Linked DNA regions of Homo sapiens. The protein of the gene in region 4 purifies or fractionates together with the protein of the main gene of each other region. This does not show direct contact. Each region holds a gene or a part of one and is shown on either strand. Other genes may lie near its edges.

The links. The genes of interacting proteins can lie anywhere in the genome.
Region 1: the proteins of TMEM70 (region 4) and MAEA purify together in Homo sapiens (affinity purification with mass spectrometry; 2 studies listed by BioGRID and IntAct, with this or other methods). This does not show direct contact.
Region 2: the proteins of TMEM70 (region 4) and ARMC6 purify together in Homo sapiens (co-immunoprecipitation; one large-scale study listed by IntAct). This does not show direct contact.
Region 3: the proteins of TMEM70 (region 4) and CPT2 purify together in Homo sapiens (affinity purification with mass spectrometry; one large-scale study listed by BioGRID and IntAct). This does not show direct contact.

Annotation. Positions count from the first base shown.
Region 1 is NC_000004.12:1,292,891-1,296,390, forward strand, and holds part of MAEA (E3 ubiquitin-protein transferase MAEA), read left to right. Parts: intron 1-3,500.
Region 2 is NC_000019.10:19,036,603-19,040,102, reverse strand, and holds part of ARMC6 (armadillo repeat-containing protein 6), read right to left. Parts: intron 1-3,500.
Region 3 is NC_000001.11:53,203,324-53,206,823, reverse strand, and holds part of CPT2 (carnitine O-palmitoyltransferase 2, mitochondrial isoform 1 precursor), read right to left. Parts: intron 1-3,500. UniProt on the Homo sapiens protein: Involved in the intramitochondrial synthesis of acylcarnitines from accumulated acyl-CoA metabolites.
Region 4 is NC_000008.11:73,978,931-73,983,515, reverse strand, and holds the end of TMEM70 (transmembrane protein 70, mitochondrial), read right to left. Parts: intron 4,438-4,585; exon of another isoform or gene 4,345-4,437; intron 2,362-4,344; coding exon 1,895-2,361; 3' UTR 733-1,894; downstream 1-732. UniProt on the Homo sapiens protein: Scaffold protein that participates in the c-ring assembly of mitochondrial ATP synthase (F(1)F(0) ATP synthase or complex V) by facilitating the membrane insertion and oligomer formation of the subunit c/ATP5MC1 through its interaction.

The DNA.
Region 1 (3,500 bases), on a different chromosome or scaffold from region 4:
TTTTTTTTTTTTTTCTTTTTTGAGACGGAGTCTCACTCTGTTGCCCAGGCTGGAGCGCGGTGGCACAATCTCAGCTCACTGCAACCTCTGCCTCCCAGATTCAAGCAATTCTCCTACCTCAGCCTCCCGAGTAGCTGAGATTACAGGCACCCGCCACCATGCCCAGCTAATTTTTTGTATTTTTTAGTAGAGACGTGGTTTCTCCATGTTGTCCAGCTGGTCTTGAACTCCTGACCTCAGGAATTCACCATCTTTCAATTCAACATGCATAGTTCACCATCTTGAATTGGAAGCCCTTGCTTTCATTATTTTGTAAAAGGTTTTTTTTTTTCTGATTATAAAAGTAATTTGATGAGTTGGGTGCGGTGGTGTGCGCCTGTAGTCCCAGCTAATTGGGAGGCTGAGGCGAGAGGATCACTTGAGCCAGGAGATCCAGGCTGTGGTGAACCGAGATTGCACCACTGCCCTCCAGCCTGGGTGACAGAGTGAGACCCTGTCTCAAATAATAAATAAATAAAAGTAATTTGTTTTTTCTTCAAGTTACCCTGCTGCACAGAGAGAACTTCATTAACATTTTGGTGTATTTACTCCTACTATTTCCCTTCAGATAGCCGAAGAAAAATAATAGTTTAGAGAATTTCACATGGGTGTCTGCACAGCCCAGGGCGGGAAGTGGTGTTCATCACCTGGAGACCCTGGTCTGGACCTGGCTCCTCTCTGTGAACCCCACCTGGGCCCACCTCTCCTCTCCTGGAGCCCCAGCAAGGGTTCCCAGCTCCAGTGAGTCCTCTCACACCCAAGGTGGTGATGCTGTCCTCTCCCCAGAGGACAGGCTGAGAAACACCGGGCTTGTGGTTGCATTCTCAGGTGTCTGAATTCTCTACAGGAAGATTTGCATGTTCTGCCTTTGGTTTGATGACAGTCTGGTTGCCCAGGCATGGCCCTGATGCCTCACAGCCTGGGTCTGTGCCTGTGGTAGGGAGTTCGGGTGCCAGCTGTGTGCTGAAGTTGTAACTGCTCCTGCGCCTTTTGTAGTTTTCTTCACTCCATCTTGGCTGGATTTGGGAGGATCATGTGTTCTCGAGTGTGAGAAACACAGGCAACCACGAAGCGTTTGACTTACTGACACACACATTGGGTTGGACCCTGGTGATGCCGTGTCTGAGGAGTCTTAGGCCGGGTCTCCACCTCTTCTGTGGCCGGCTTTTTCGATGTACTTTATCTGCAGTAACGTCACAGCCCTCCAGAATCCGCCCGGTCTCTAGAGCACAGTGGAAATTCCTTCTGCCCAGAAGAGCCATGGTCTGCCCTTTGTGGCTCCCAGCTCCACTCCCCTCGCCTCTCCCACCGTTTGCTGGTGGTTTGGCCCTGGGCTGGCTTCCGCGGCCTCCGCGCTGGCACAGGTCTTCCCTCCCAGGCCTGGGCCTTTCCAGCTGGTTGGGCAAGGCTGAGATAAGGATGTAGACTTGAATTCACTGCTAGCTGGGGGGTTGGTTTTGTTTTTGTTTTTTTAAGTATTATTTTTTTAACACATTTCAAGTCAAGAAAGTGCTTTTTAATGCCTGATTCACCGTAATGGCTGGGCTAGGTTGGAGGCAGTACTGACGTGAGGCCTGGAGCGGCCCTGGGACCTAAGCAAGGCACCGCCGCCGGGCTGCAGAGCAGGGCTGCAGGTGCACTTAGCTTCTCCCATACCCCCCTCCGCAGCAGTGGTCTGAGAGCCTCCATCGGCCAGGTACGGTCAGGCCCTGCACAGTCAGGCCCTGGGCTAGCATGATGGGGAGACAAGTGAGGCCCCTGTCTACGCTCCGGTGGGAGGGAGGCATCAGCACAAGCACACACAGACATCTCAGATCCTTTAAAGACGCTGATGAGGTTGAGGTGATGTTGGACAGTGGCAGGGGACGGGGGTGGGGCCGGGGGCAGGGGCAGGGGCAGGGGCGGGGGTGGGGATGAGCTTCCTCCAGTGAATGCGATATTGTGAGCTGGTTGGCGGAGCTAAGTTTTGGGGTGAGGCTCTGTGGACCGTGTTGAAGTCCTGGCCGGCTCTCACCCCAGTAGGCACACAGGCACACAGCACCATTGGGGTGATGTGGCTGGGGGTGTCCCAGAGCTGTGCAGGGAGGGTCTCACAGTGAGACTGGGTGCTGGGCAGTGACTCGGTCTGTGGGTACAGGGGTCAGCAGAATGGGAAGCAAGCCCAAGGAGACACATTGGCACCAGAATGAAGACAAGGCCGGCCGGTGCCTGTAGCATGTGACTGCCCCGTCTGCAGAGAGGCTGTGCTGCGAGCCCCACCCTCTGGGGGCTTCAGGCCGAGTGGGGATGTCTGGGTGCTGACCCAGGCATCGCAAAGCACACTTCCTGCCGGGGTAACTGCTGATGATTTTTAGGTCTGTTATTTCAGAATCGTTATAGCTAGGGGCCATTATTTTGAAAACCTGAACAAAAAGAATTATTCACTGTGTTAATACCACATTTAGTGACTGTTGAGCTGAATGTGGCTGAGCAGAAGAAAGCACCTGCTGTGCTGATGGCTGACTGTGGACCCGGACCGGGACCCTGAGTGCTGCCCCACTCGAGGGAGGGGCCCAGAGCAGCCTCCTTCCTCTCCTCCCAGGCGAGCCTTTCATACCTGTCCTTCTCTCAGACTTTCCCTCCTACTTCATGCTCGCCCATGCCTGTCACGCAGACCCTGCCTGACCTGCACCTGCTCCCACACCCGTGGTGGATGAGCCCCATCACCCGTACCTGTACCCCCCTCACCCGCTCCTGTACCCCCTCACCCGCTCCTATACCCCCTCACCCACACCTGTACCCCCCTCACCCGCTCCTGTACCCCCTCACCCGCGCCTGTGCCCCCTCACCCGTGCCTCTGCCCCCCTCACCCGCGCCTGTGCCCCCCTCCCCAGCGCCTGTGCCCCCTCACCCACGCCTGTGCCCTCCTCACCCATGCCGGTGCCCACCACACCTGCGCCTTTGCCCCTTCACCTGTGTCTGCACCGCCCTCACCTGTGCTGCCTTCACCTGCACCCCCTCACCCACACCTGTGCCACCCTCGCCCGCACCTGTGCCCCCCTCACCCACGTCTGCACTGCCCTCACCTGTGCTGCCCTCACCTGTGCCCCCCACCTGTGCCTGTGCCCCCCTCACCTGCTCCTCCCTCACCTGCTCCTCCCTCACCTGCTCCTGCACCACCTTCACGTGCGCCCCCCACCTACATCTGCACCTCACCTATGCTACCCTCACCTGTGCCCCCCCACCCGCACCTGTGCCCCCCTCACCCACGTCTGCACTGCCCTCACCTGTGCTGCCCTCACCTGTGCCCCCCACCTGTGCCTGTGCCCCCCTCACCTGCTCCTCCCTCACCTGCTCCTCCCTCACCTGCTCCTGCACCACCTTCACGTGCGCCCCCCACCTACATCTGCACCTCACCTATGCTACCCTCACCTGTGCCCCCCCACCCGCACCTGTGCCCCCCTCACCTGTGCCTGTGCAGC
Region 2 (3,500 bases), on a different chromosome or scaffold from region 4:
TGATGAAACGTTCTCTATCTGCACTGCCTAGTACAGAAGCCATTGGCCTCTGTGGCTATCACACAGCTGAAGTGTGGCAGTGTGGCTGAGGAACTGAGTGTGTAATTTTATTTCATTTTAATTTGTTAATGTAAATAGCCATGTGTGACGAGTGACTATGGTATTGCACAGCACAGCTCTGACACCTTAACCAACACCATGGGGATGTGATCTGCAAAATCCCTACTAGGGAAGAGAATGTCAACTAGAGGACAAACACCCAGAGTTTTCAACAAATAAATCACAAGAACAAAGAAAAGGAGACGGAGTCTACCAACAGATGAATGGATAAAATGGTCTGTGCGCATGGTGGTATATTACTCAGCCAGAGAAAGGAATGAGGTGCTGAAGCATGCTACAATGGAGATAGACCTCAAAAACATGATGTCTCGTCAAAGAAGCCAGACACGAAAAGCCTCATATTGCACGATTCCAATGACATGAAATATCCAGAACAGGCAAATCCACAGACACAAAAAGCAGACTGGGTGTTGCCAGGGACTGGAGGAGAGGGAATGGGGAGTAACTTCTAATGGGTATAGGGTTTCCTTCTGGGTGATGAAAACGTTCTTGAATTATAGTGATGATGGTTGTACAACTCTGTGAAAACGTAAAATCACTACATCAGGCCAGGCATGGTGGCTCACACCTGTGATCCCAGTGCTTTAGGAGGCCAAGGTGGGAGGACTGTTTCAAGTCTGGAGTTTGAGACCAGCAAGGACAACATAGTAAGGCCCCGTCTCTACAAAAAAATTTAAAAATATAGTCAGGTGTGGTGGCATTTGCGTGTGGTTGAAGTTACTCGGGAGGCTGAAGCAGGAGGATCATTTGAGCCCAGGAGTTCAAGGCTGCAGTGAGCTGTGACTGGGCCACTGCACTCCGGTCTGGATGACAGAGGGAGACCATGTCTCCAGAAGAAAAAAAAAAATTACTAAATCAAATGAGTGAATATTATGGTATGTAAATTATAGCTCAATTTCTTAAAGTGCTAATCTGTTTAAAAACAAAAAGAACTGAGCAATGACTTGTGCCTGTAATCTCAGCAACTTGGGAGGCTAAGGCGGGGGGATCACTCAAGCACAGGAGTTTGAGACCAGCCTGCGGCAACACAGTGAGACCATATCTCTTAAAAAAAATGTGTGTGTGTGTGTGTGTGTGTGTGTGTATACACACAAACCCACCTTATAAAATAAAAATAAGCAAGTAAGGCCAGGCATGGTGGCTCATGCCTGTAATACCAGCACTTTGGGAGGCCAAGGCAGGCAGATCACCTGAGGTCAGGAGTTCAAGACCAACATGGCGAAACCCCGTCTCTACTAAATATACAAAAATTAGTGGGGCGCCTGTAATCCCAGCTACTCGGGAGGCTGAGGCAGGAGAATGGCTTGAACCAGGGAGGTGGAGGTTGCAGTGAGACAAGATCACGCCATCGCACTCCAGCCTGGGCAACAAGAGCAAGACTTCGTCTCAAAAAATAAATAAATAAACAAACAAGTAAAACCCAGTATAGGCATACCCTGGAAACCAGGGGTAGGTATCAACACTTAGATGACCCACTAACCTTGGGCAGTACCTTCCACTCTGACAGGTGGGAACAAGACATAGAGTTAAGTAAGATAAAACTCTTGGTAAAAACACCAAATCCCTTTGCAATTCTGTTTCAAACCTGTAGCTCAGCAGTCCCAACCTTTTTAGCCTAAGGGACCAGTTTCGTGGAAGACAATTTTTCCATGGATATGGTGGGGCTAGGGTGGGGATGGTTTCAGGATTGTTCAAGCTCATTACATTTATTGTGCACTTTATTTCTATTATTGTTACATTGTAATATAATAATTATACTATTCACTGTAATGTAGGATCAGTGGGAGCCCTGAGCTTGTTGTCTGGCAACTAGACAGTCCCATCTGGGGGTGATGGGAGATAGTGACAGATCATCAGGCATTAGATTTTCATAAGGAGTGCCCAACCTAAATCGCTTGCATGTGCAGTTCACAGTAGGGTTCGTGCTCCTATAATTTAATGCTGCTGATCTGACAGGAGGTAGAGCTCAGGCATAATGCAAGTGATGGGGAGTTGCTGTAAATACAGATGAAGCTTCACTCGCTCACCCTACGCTTGCCTCCTGCTGTGCAGCCCAGGTCCTAACAGGCCAGGGACCACTGGACCAGTATGGGTCTGTGACCCAGGAATTGGGGACCCCTGCTGTAGATGATCTTAACCAGAAGGTCTTGACAGGGTACGAGTGAACCTAACATTTGCCACCGTCCCTTTGGAACAAAAGGAGGAACAGGCCTTAGGTCCAGAGCCTAACAGAGGTTAACAACTTTTTAAATTTTAATTGTTTCAATATATCCACCTTGCTTATTGCAGTAATATCAAGTTTCCGTTCTGGAATTATCAAGTTTCCACTTCAGGCCAGGCATGGTGGCCTGCACTTTGGGAGGCCGAGGCGGAAGGATCACATGAGGCCAGGAGTTTGAGACCAGCCTGGACACGTGGCGAAACTCCATCTCTATAAAAAATACCAAAATTAGCCAGGTGTGGGAGCATGCACCTGTAGTTACAGCTATTTGGGAGGCTGAGGTGGGAGCCCAGGGAGGTCAAGGCTGCAGTGAGCTGAGATCATATCCCTGAACTCCAGCCTGGGTGACAAAGTAAGACCTTGTCTCAAAAAAAAAAAAAAAGGAAAAAGAAACAGGTCACTCTGGCCCATGCTTCTCTTTTCAGGCAGTGGCATGGGATATACACATTCCATCTGTGTTCCTGCAGATGCCCACCATGGACTGCACACTGCCTGACGGGAGAAGGACTGGCTCGCAGCCAGCCTGCAGAACCCAGTTCCCATGCCCTCCACTTCAATGCCCTTTTCTTTTTTTTTTGAGACAGAGTCTCGCTCTGTCGCCCAGGTTGGAATGCAGTGGCACGATCTTGGCTCACCACAACCTCTGCCTCCTGGGTTCAAGCGATTCTTGTGCCTCAGCCTCCAAGTAGCTGAGACTACAGGCCCACGCCACCACGCCCAGCTAATTTTCGTATTTTTAGTAGAGACAGGGTTTCACCATGTTGGCCAGGCTAGTCTCGAACTCCTGACCTCAGGTGACCCACCTGCCTCGGCCTCCCATCATGCTGGGATTACAGGCATGAGCCACCACGCCCAGCCAGATACACTTTTCTTCAATTCCCTCATGTGTCAAACAGAGATAAACACGAATCTACTTCATAGGGCAGTAGTGAAAAATTCAGCCAACTCCTATACCTTCCTCAGAACAGGATATGGACAGGCTCAATAAATTAGCTATTTGTTCCTTTCCTTTGTTGCTTAAGAGGCAATTCAGCAAGTTTATGCAGGAGTCCCATCTCACTCTTTTGCAGATAGGCCCCTCTCCTTTCTGCCCCAGAAGAAAAGGGAGCTCTTTAAGGGCTGCTATGGATTTCCAAGGTTAAAGGTGAAGGAAGAGTAA
Region 3 (3,500 bases), on a different chromosome or scaffold from region 4:
ATTAACTCAAAATTACAAGCCAAAGTCTCATCTGAGTAAAGGCAAGTTCCTTCTGCCTATGAGTCTGTAAAATCAAAAACCAATTAGTTATTTTCAAGATACACTGGTGTTACAAGCATTGGGTAAATGCTCCCATTCCAAAAGGGAGAAATTGGCCAAAACAGAGGGGCTACAGGCCCCACGCAAGCCTGAAATCCAGCAGGGCAGCCATTAAATCTTAAAGCTCCAAAATAATCTTTGACTCCATGTCTCACATCCAGGGCATGCTGATGTAAGAAGTGGGCTCCCAAGGCCTTTGGTAGCCCTGCCCCTGTGGCTCTGCAGAGTACAGCCCCATGGTTGCTTTTACAGGCTGGCATTGAATGCCTGTGGCTTTTCCAGGCACATGGTGCAAACTGTCGGTGGATCTACCATTCTGGGGTCTGAAGGGCAGTGGCCCTCTTCTCACAGTTCCACTAGGCTCCCCATTGGGAACTCTGTGTGGGGGCTCTAACCCCATATTTCCCATCTGCATTGCCCTAGTAGAGGATCTCCATGAGGGCTTCACCCCTGCAGCAGACTTCTGCCTGGACATCCAGGTGTTTCCATATAGCCTCTGAAATGTAGGAGGAGGTTGTCTCTTTTTTTTTTTTTTTTTTTTTGAAATGGAGTCTTGCTCTGTCACCCAGACTGGAGTGCAGTGGTGCTATCTTGGCTCACTGCAAGCTCTGCCTCCTGGGTTCACGCTATTCTCCTGCCTCAGCCTCCCCAGCAGCTGGGACACAGGTGCACGCCACCACACCCGGCTAATTTTTTTTGTATTTTTAATACAGACAGGGTTTCACCATGTTAGCCAGGATGGTCTCGATCTCCTGACCTTGTGATCCACCCGCCTTGGCCTCCCAAAGTGCTGGGATTACAGGCGTGAGCCACCGCACCCGGCCGGACGAGGTTTTCAAACCTCAACTCTTGTTTTCTGCACACCTGCATGCCCAACACCATGGGGAAGCCTCCAATGCTTGGGGCTTGCACCCTCTGAAGCAATGGCCAGAGCTGTGCCTTGGCCCCTTTTAGCCATGGCTGGAGCTGGAGTGCCTGGGACACAGGGCACCATGTCCCGAGGCTGCACAGAACAGCAGGGCCCAGGAAACCATTTTTCCCTCTTAGGCCTCTGGGCCTATGCTGGGAGGGGCTACTGTAAAGATCTCTGAAATGCCCTCAAGACATTCTCCCCATTGTCTTGGCTATTAACATTTGGCTTCTCATTACTTATGCAAATTTCTGCAGCTTGTGGCTTGAATTTCTCCCCAGAAAATGGGTTTTTCTTTTCTACTGCATGGTCAGGCTGCAAATTGTCCAAACTTTTATGCTCTGCTTCCCTTTTAAACATAAGTCCCACTTTCACATCATCTCTCTGTGAATGCATATGACCATATGCTTTCAGAAAAAGCCATCTTGAATGCTTTGTTGCTTAGAAGTTTCTTCTGTCAGACACCCTAAATCACCCCTCTCAAGTTCAAAGTTCTGCAGATCTCTAGGACAGGGACAAAATGCCACCAGTCTCTCTGCTAAAGCACAGTAGAGTGACCTTTGCTCCAGTTCCCAATAAGTTCCTCATCTCCATCTGAGACCACCTCAGCCTGGACTTCATTGTCCATATCTCTATCAGCATTTTGGTCAAAACCATTCAACTCTCTAAGAAGTTCCAAACTGTCTGACATCTTCCTGTCTTCTTCTGACCCCTCCAAACTGTTCCAACCTCTGCCTATTAACCAGTTCCAAAGTTGTTTCCACATTTTCAGGTATCTTTGTAGCAATGCCCCCCTCCTGGTACCAGTTTTCTATATTAGTCCATTTTCACACTGCTATAAAGAACCACCTGAGACTGGGTAATTTATAAAGAAAAGAGGTCTAATTGACTGACAGTTCCTTGTGGCTGGGGAGGCCTCAGGAAACTTACAATCACAGCGCAAGGTGAAGGGGAAGCAAGGCACATCTTATGTGGCAGCAGGAGAGAAAGCGAACAAGTGGGGGAACTGCTGAACACTTTTTAACTATCAGAGCTCGTGAGAAACCACTAACTATCATGAGAACAGCATGGGGAAAACTGCCCCCATGATCCAATCACCTCCCTCCAGGTCCCTCCTTCAACACGTGGGGATTACAATTCAAGATGAGATTTGGGTGGGGACATAGAGCCAAACCATATCAATCACATTAGAGCAAAGCCTGTAACTGACAAGCCTCACCCCCATCCACATAGCTTCCAAGAGCTTTTTAATATCTCACTCATATCGAAGACAACACAGGATTATGAAGCATCTGAAGAAAGAAAAGGGCAAAGCAAACAGAAGAAAAGCAACTTGGAGGCAACAGACTATGAAGAGAGAAGAGATCTTAAAAAAAAATTATCAGAGATAAACTATTTTTAAAAAGAACACCATAAGAAGAAAAAAGAGCTTGTGGAAGTAAAAAATAGGAAAGCAGGAGTTTTAAAAACAGGTTGAGAGATTAAAATTAAGTAAGTCTCCCAAGAAAATGTAACAAAAAGAGTAAGAGATGAAAAATGTGAGAGAAAAGAAAATTAGAGGATGAGACCCAGAAATTCTACACCTGAATAATAATAGAGTTCCACAAAGAAAAAACAGAGAAAAAAAATGGAGAGGAAGAAAGCCAAAGAAATAAAACAAGGAAATATCCCAGACCTGAAGGATGAGATTCCAGATTCAAAGGACTCACAGAGTGGCCCAACACATACTAAAACACATTACCTGAAATTTCAAAACACTGGGGACAAAGAGAAAATTCTAAAAAGCTTCCAAAGGCAGAGAGAAGAAGTAGTCAAAAGATTAAGTCTCAGAATAACATTAGATTTACCAACAGCAACACTGGATGCTAAAAGACAATGGAGCAAAGCCTCCAAAATTCTGTGGGAAAATAATTTCAAACCCAGCCAAACAAATTATCAATGAAGTATAAGGGCCATTTTAAAATTTTTGCTTCCCATATTCTGTTTCCAGATAGTACAGGGAATATGTGCTCTGATTTAAAAAAAAAAAAAAAGAAAAAGAAAAAGCCAAGAAATAAGAAAATATGAAAGACAAGAAACACGAGTCCCAACATGAGAGAGAGATGACAGATGCCCCAGCTGATGGTGAAAGAGCACAGGAGAGCAGCTTCACAGTAGGCCAAGAGGTTCACAAATCCAGACTACAGCATGTCGCAAGTTCTGGAAGAAGTTTCGTCAAGAAGACCAAAAGGGATAGAATGTCCAATCTGCTTTCATGTATTGAGAGGAGATTCAGACAGCTTGGGAAGAGTCTGGGGGTAAATTAGTAAGCACATAGAAAACTAAACAAGAGAAAAGATGGAACAATTATTAACTTCAGAGAAAACAAAAAGTTTGTACTGGAAAGGAAAAACAATCCCAATATGCTACATGAGTCAGCTGACAATAGTGTTTCTATGATCATAATAGCATAAAACTAGATACTGAGTTACCCAAAATTACAAATCCCTAT
Region 4 (4,585 bases):
TTGTCTTGGGCCACACATAAAATATACTAATGATAGTGATGAGCTTAAAAAAAAAATCTCAAAAATAAAATTTAAGTTTACGAATTTGTGTTGGGCCACATTCAAAGCCGTCCTGGGCTGCAGGCTGGACAAGCTTCCCTTATCTAGTAGGTTGCTATGAAAAAAATAGAAACACATCTCTCATTCATTGCTAGGATACATCTAGGGGACAAAGGACAGAGAAGCAAGCAGGCAAAAACCCACCTTGAGCAGAAGATGGCACAGAGGAATGGCGGTGGGAATTCTCAGTCTGGTGAGCTGGACAATCCAAGCAGAGGGCAGGCTCTACGTCTCAGAAAGACAGCTTTTCTGTCTTATCTCCTATGAATAAGTTTCGAGCAGCCTGGGAGTTGAATGATCTCTTTGAACAGATGTTCCTGCTGCTTCCCCATCAACCTCCCTCATACACATGTACGCCATAAAGTTTAAATTTACTATCATGGTGGCCATAGACAATGTTAGGTAGCTCCATAAAGACAGACGGGGTGTTTCATTCTTAACTGTGATCTTAGTAACTAGCACAGTACTGGGCACTTAGTAAATATCTACTGATCTAAATAGTGTGGTTTGAGGCCTCTTGTTCCTGGCTAAAAATCCTTGGCAAGAGTCAATCTCCACTTTACAATAGAGGTAAAAATCTTACAATGGATATTCTTGACAAAGCTAGCATAGAGACAGCAATTTTACACAAGGTATTTTTCACCTGTTTAATAACAGTGGTTTTCCTACACCCATAGGGTGCCACCAAGGGAGGAGTGCACAGTTGCAGAAACAAATTAAGATACTGAAGACAACACTACTTACCATTTCCCGTATAGCTAACCACCAGTTCAACTGTACATGTATGTTCTTATGGGCAATCATGCCAGGGGTTAGGCAAAAACCTGTGTTCTGAACCAAAGAAGACTTAAAACTGCTCCCATAATTTGTGAATTTCTTGAAATTTTGCGGTTTTTTGAAAATTTTTTAACAACTGGTAATCAATTTATGAAAACAGTTGACTTAAGCATTTGCAATGGTGACTTCCATCTCAACTCCTGGCTCAATACTGATGGAAGTAATCTGCTTAACTATCTGAGGACTGCGCAAGTCAATGAGTCGCTTGTGGATTCTCATCTGGAAACGATCCCATGCCTTAGAACCTTCACCGTAAGTTTTTCTTGTAGTGATTCTCAAAGTCTTGGTAGGCATTCAAACTGGTCCTTTCACTGATTCTTTTCCTTTGCTCCTCAGATCAAGTCAGCACACACCTTATCCAGGGATTTTACGTTGCAACTCGTTAGAGTGATATGAATTCGGTGAATTGCCACCTCTGACTCCACGGGTGTTTTTCTGGTATGTTTAAAAGCCATGGCTGCTGCAAGGCTTCCTAGCCAGCTTCCTGACAGACTTGGTCCTCAGGCAACAGCAAAGAGCAGTGAGTCAGGAGCAGGAGCAGGTGGACCACAGCTCCGCACCACCTATGACTGTGTCTTCCTCAAAGAGAAAATGTCTTTTAATGTCGGAAAATATTTATACACTTAGAAAAATCCATACACAAAGAATAAAGCAACTCTCCCATTTGCTACTGACATCAGATCCCCAGTTTAGAGTCAACCACAGTAACACAGAACTCTTATACTAGCATGAACATATTTATTCACATACCTTTCTAAAACACGAATGGTAGATACTACATTTTGGTTTTCAAACATAGCTTGTTTTATTATAAACAAACATCATTCTCTGGAAATTAAAAGCTTTGATAATTTCAAATTATTTTTAACAATCAGTCACTAACGGAATGCAAAAGGCAATTTTATTATTATACATTAAAACGTAAATCACATTTGAGCACGAACACTAACAAATAGGCTCATTTGTCATCTTTATGCCGTTTCTCTTCACTGGTTTCTTCCATATACAAAATAAATTCTTCTTTGTCATAACCCATTAGATGGATATAGTCTTCACGGTTTGGAAAGAGCACTGGATTAACTAACAGTGATTTTGTTTTAGCATAAAATGTGGTAAATACATGTTTAGCATCTGGAATCTTCACATCATTCTGGTGAAACACTGTACTCGTTTCTGCAAGCATAGCATTGTAGGTAATGGCTTTATAAGTGTCTGTTGTGGCCTCATGGTACAATCGAATGACATAGCCTTTTGTAATAAAGTGAAGCAGCACTGGGGTGATCACCGTAAAGCTTCCCATGATGCCATAGAATATGATTTGAATAGGCAGAGGCACACTTTCAGAAATAGCATTATTTTGTGTAAAAATGTATGGCAGAAATGTAAGGCCAATCAGACTCGTAGAATAAGAGAAACATTTCACACCTAAATGGGAAAAAAAGAGAGAGGATCAATACTTTTAAATTTTATAAAAGAATCAATCTATCCCACTAATTCTTCCATTTTTCTTCTTACTGTATCAGCTCAAGACAACAAAATCAAACCATAAATACAGTGCTTATTATATTCTAAGCTCTGTTTTAAGGACTTTACATATTTTGACTTCAATGTCCCTGCTACTGACCATTAGAATGCACTGCCTCTCCAGGCAGGAAATCTGCTTTAGGGTTTAAGTGGCCCTACCTCAGTTCCACAATAAAGTAGTTAATATTACTTAAAGATCCTTACTAATATTGTACTACAAAAGTTGATTCAGATAGCAGATTATCAAACAAAACTCTCTATTAACAAGCACTCCAGTATATCTAACATAAAATATTCAAACATGGGAAATTCTATCAGGCTAAGTGCCCAGGATTAAAACAGCAAATCACCAGAGAAATAAAACCAGTGGTTAAAAAACATATCGGACGGCCAGGCGCATTGGCTCATGCCTGTAATCCCAGCACTTTGGGAGGCTGAGGCAGGTGGGTCATTTGAGGTTAGGAGTTCGAGACCAGCCTGGCCAACATGGTGAAACTCCCATCTCTACTAACAATACAAAAATTAGCTGGGCATGGTGGCAAGTGCTTGTAATCCCAGCTATTCAGGAGGCTGAGGCAGGAAAATCCTTGAACCCAGGAGGTAGAGGCTGCAGTGAGCCAAGACTGCACACTGCACTCCAGCTTGGGAGACAAAGCGAGACTCCATCTCAAAAAAAAAAAACAGAAACATATGGGAAAGGTATTCAATTTCTTTAGTAAGGAAAGACATTCAAGTTAAAACAATGAGATAAGCAGCCTGGCCAGCATGGCGAAATCCTGTCTCTACTAAAAATACAAAAATTAGCCAGGCTTGGTGGCATGCACCTATAATCCCAGCTACTGGGGGTGCTGAGGCAGGAGAATTGCTTGAACCTGGGAGGTGGAGGTTGCAGTGAGCCCAGATTGTGCCACTGCACTCCAGCCTGGGCAACAAGAGCAAAACTCCGTCTCAATAAATAAATAATAAAAAATACAAAAAAAACACTGAGATACCATTTTTACCTATTACCTTAGAAAGATTAAAAATAAATGACTTCTAGCAGAGTGCAGTGGCTCATGCCTGTAATCTCAGCACTTTGGAAGGTGTAGGCAGAAGGACTGCTTGAGACCAGTTTGAGACCAGCCTAGGCACCATAGGAAGACCTGTCTCTACAAAAAAAATTTTTTTTAATTAGCCAAGGCTGGTCTGATGGTAATGAGTTATCAGAACTTAACACTGGCATCACTAAAGTTGGTATACAATGTCCCCACTGCTAAATTTGACTAGCTTAAAAAAAAAAAAATCAGCCAGGTGTAGTGGCACATGTCTGTAGTCCTAGCTATTTGGGAGGCTGAGGTGGGAGGATCACTCGAGCCCACAAGTTTGAAGTTGCAGTGAACTATGATCACACCACTGCACTCCAGCCTAGATGACAGAGACCCTGTCTCTAAAAAATAAAAATTATTTTTAAAAAATGGCTTCTAAACTGTATACTTCAAAATGATTAAAGTGAAAAATTTTATGTTTATCTAACCACAATAAAAAATGACTTAAAATGTAAATTTACCTTACCTTTAATTTATAATTTTAATACGATCCTAATAAAAAATACCATCTGTTTGGAAAATAAAGTTGAGATCCTAAACAAGTTGATTATAAAGTTTATTTGGAAAAACAAAAGCAGCAAAAAATAAAAAAATAAAGCAATGAGGGGAAGTTACCCCTTCGAAATATTAAAACATAATAGAGGCCGGGCGTGGTGGCTCACGCCTGTAATCCCAATACTTTGGGAGGCCGAGGTGGGTGGGTTACTTGAAGTGAGGAGTTCAAGACCAGCCTGACCAACATGGTGAAACCCTGTCTCTACTAAAAATACAAAAATTGGCCAAGTGTGGTGGTGCATACCTGTAATCCCAGCAGGAGGCTGAGCCAGGAGAATCGCTTGAACATGGGAGGCGAAGAGTATGGTGAACCAAGATCATGCCACTGCACTCCAGCCTGGACAACAGAGTGAGACTCTGTCTCAAATAAAAATCTAAAAATGCAAAGGTCTCTACATCTTATCAACACACCTCAAGAAAAAAAAATGAAAATCTAATTTTCCTTACGTCTTGTAATTAAGGGATGCCATAACAACAAGTAAGAT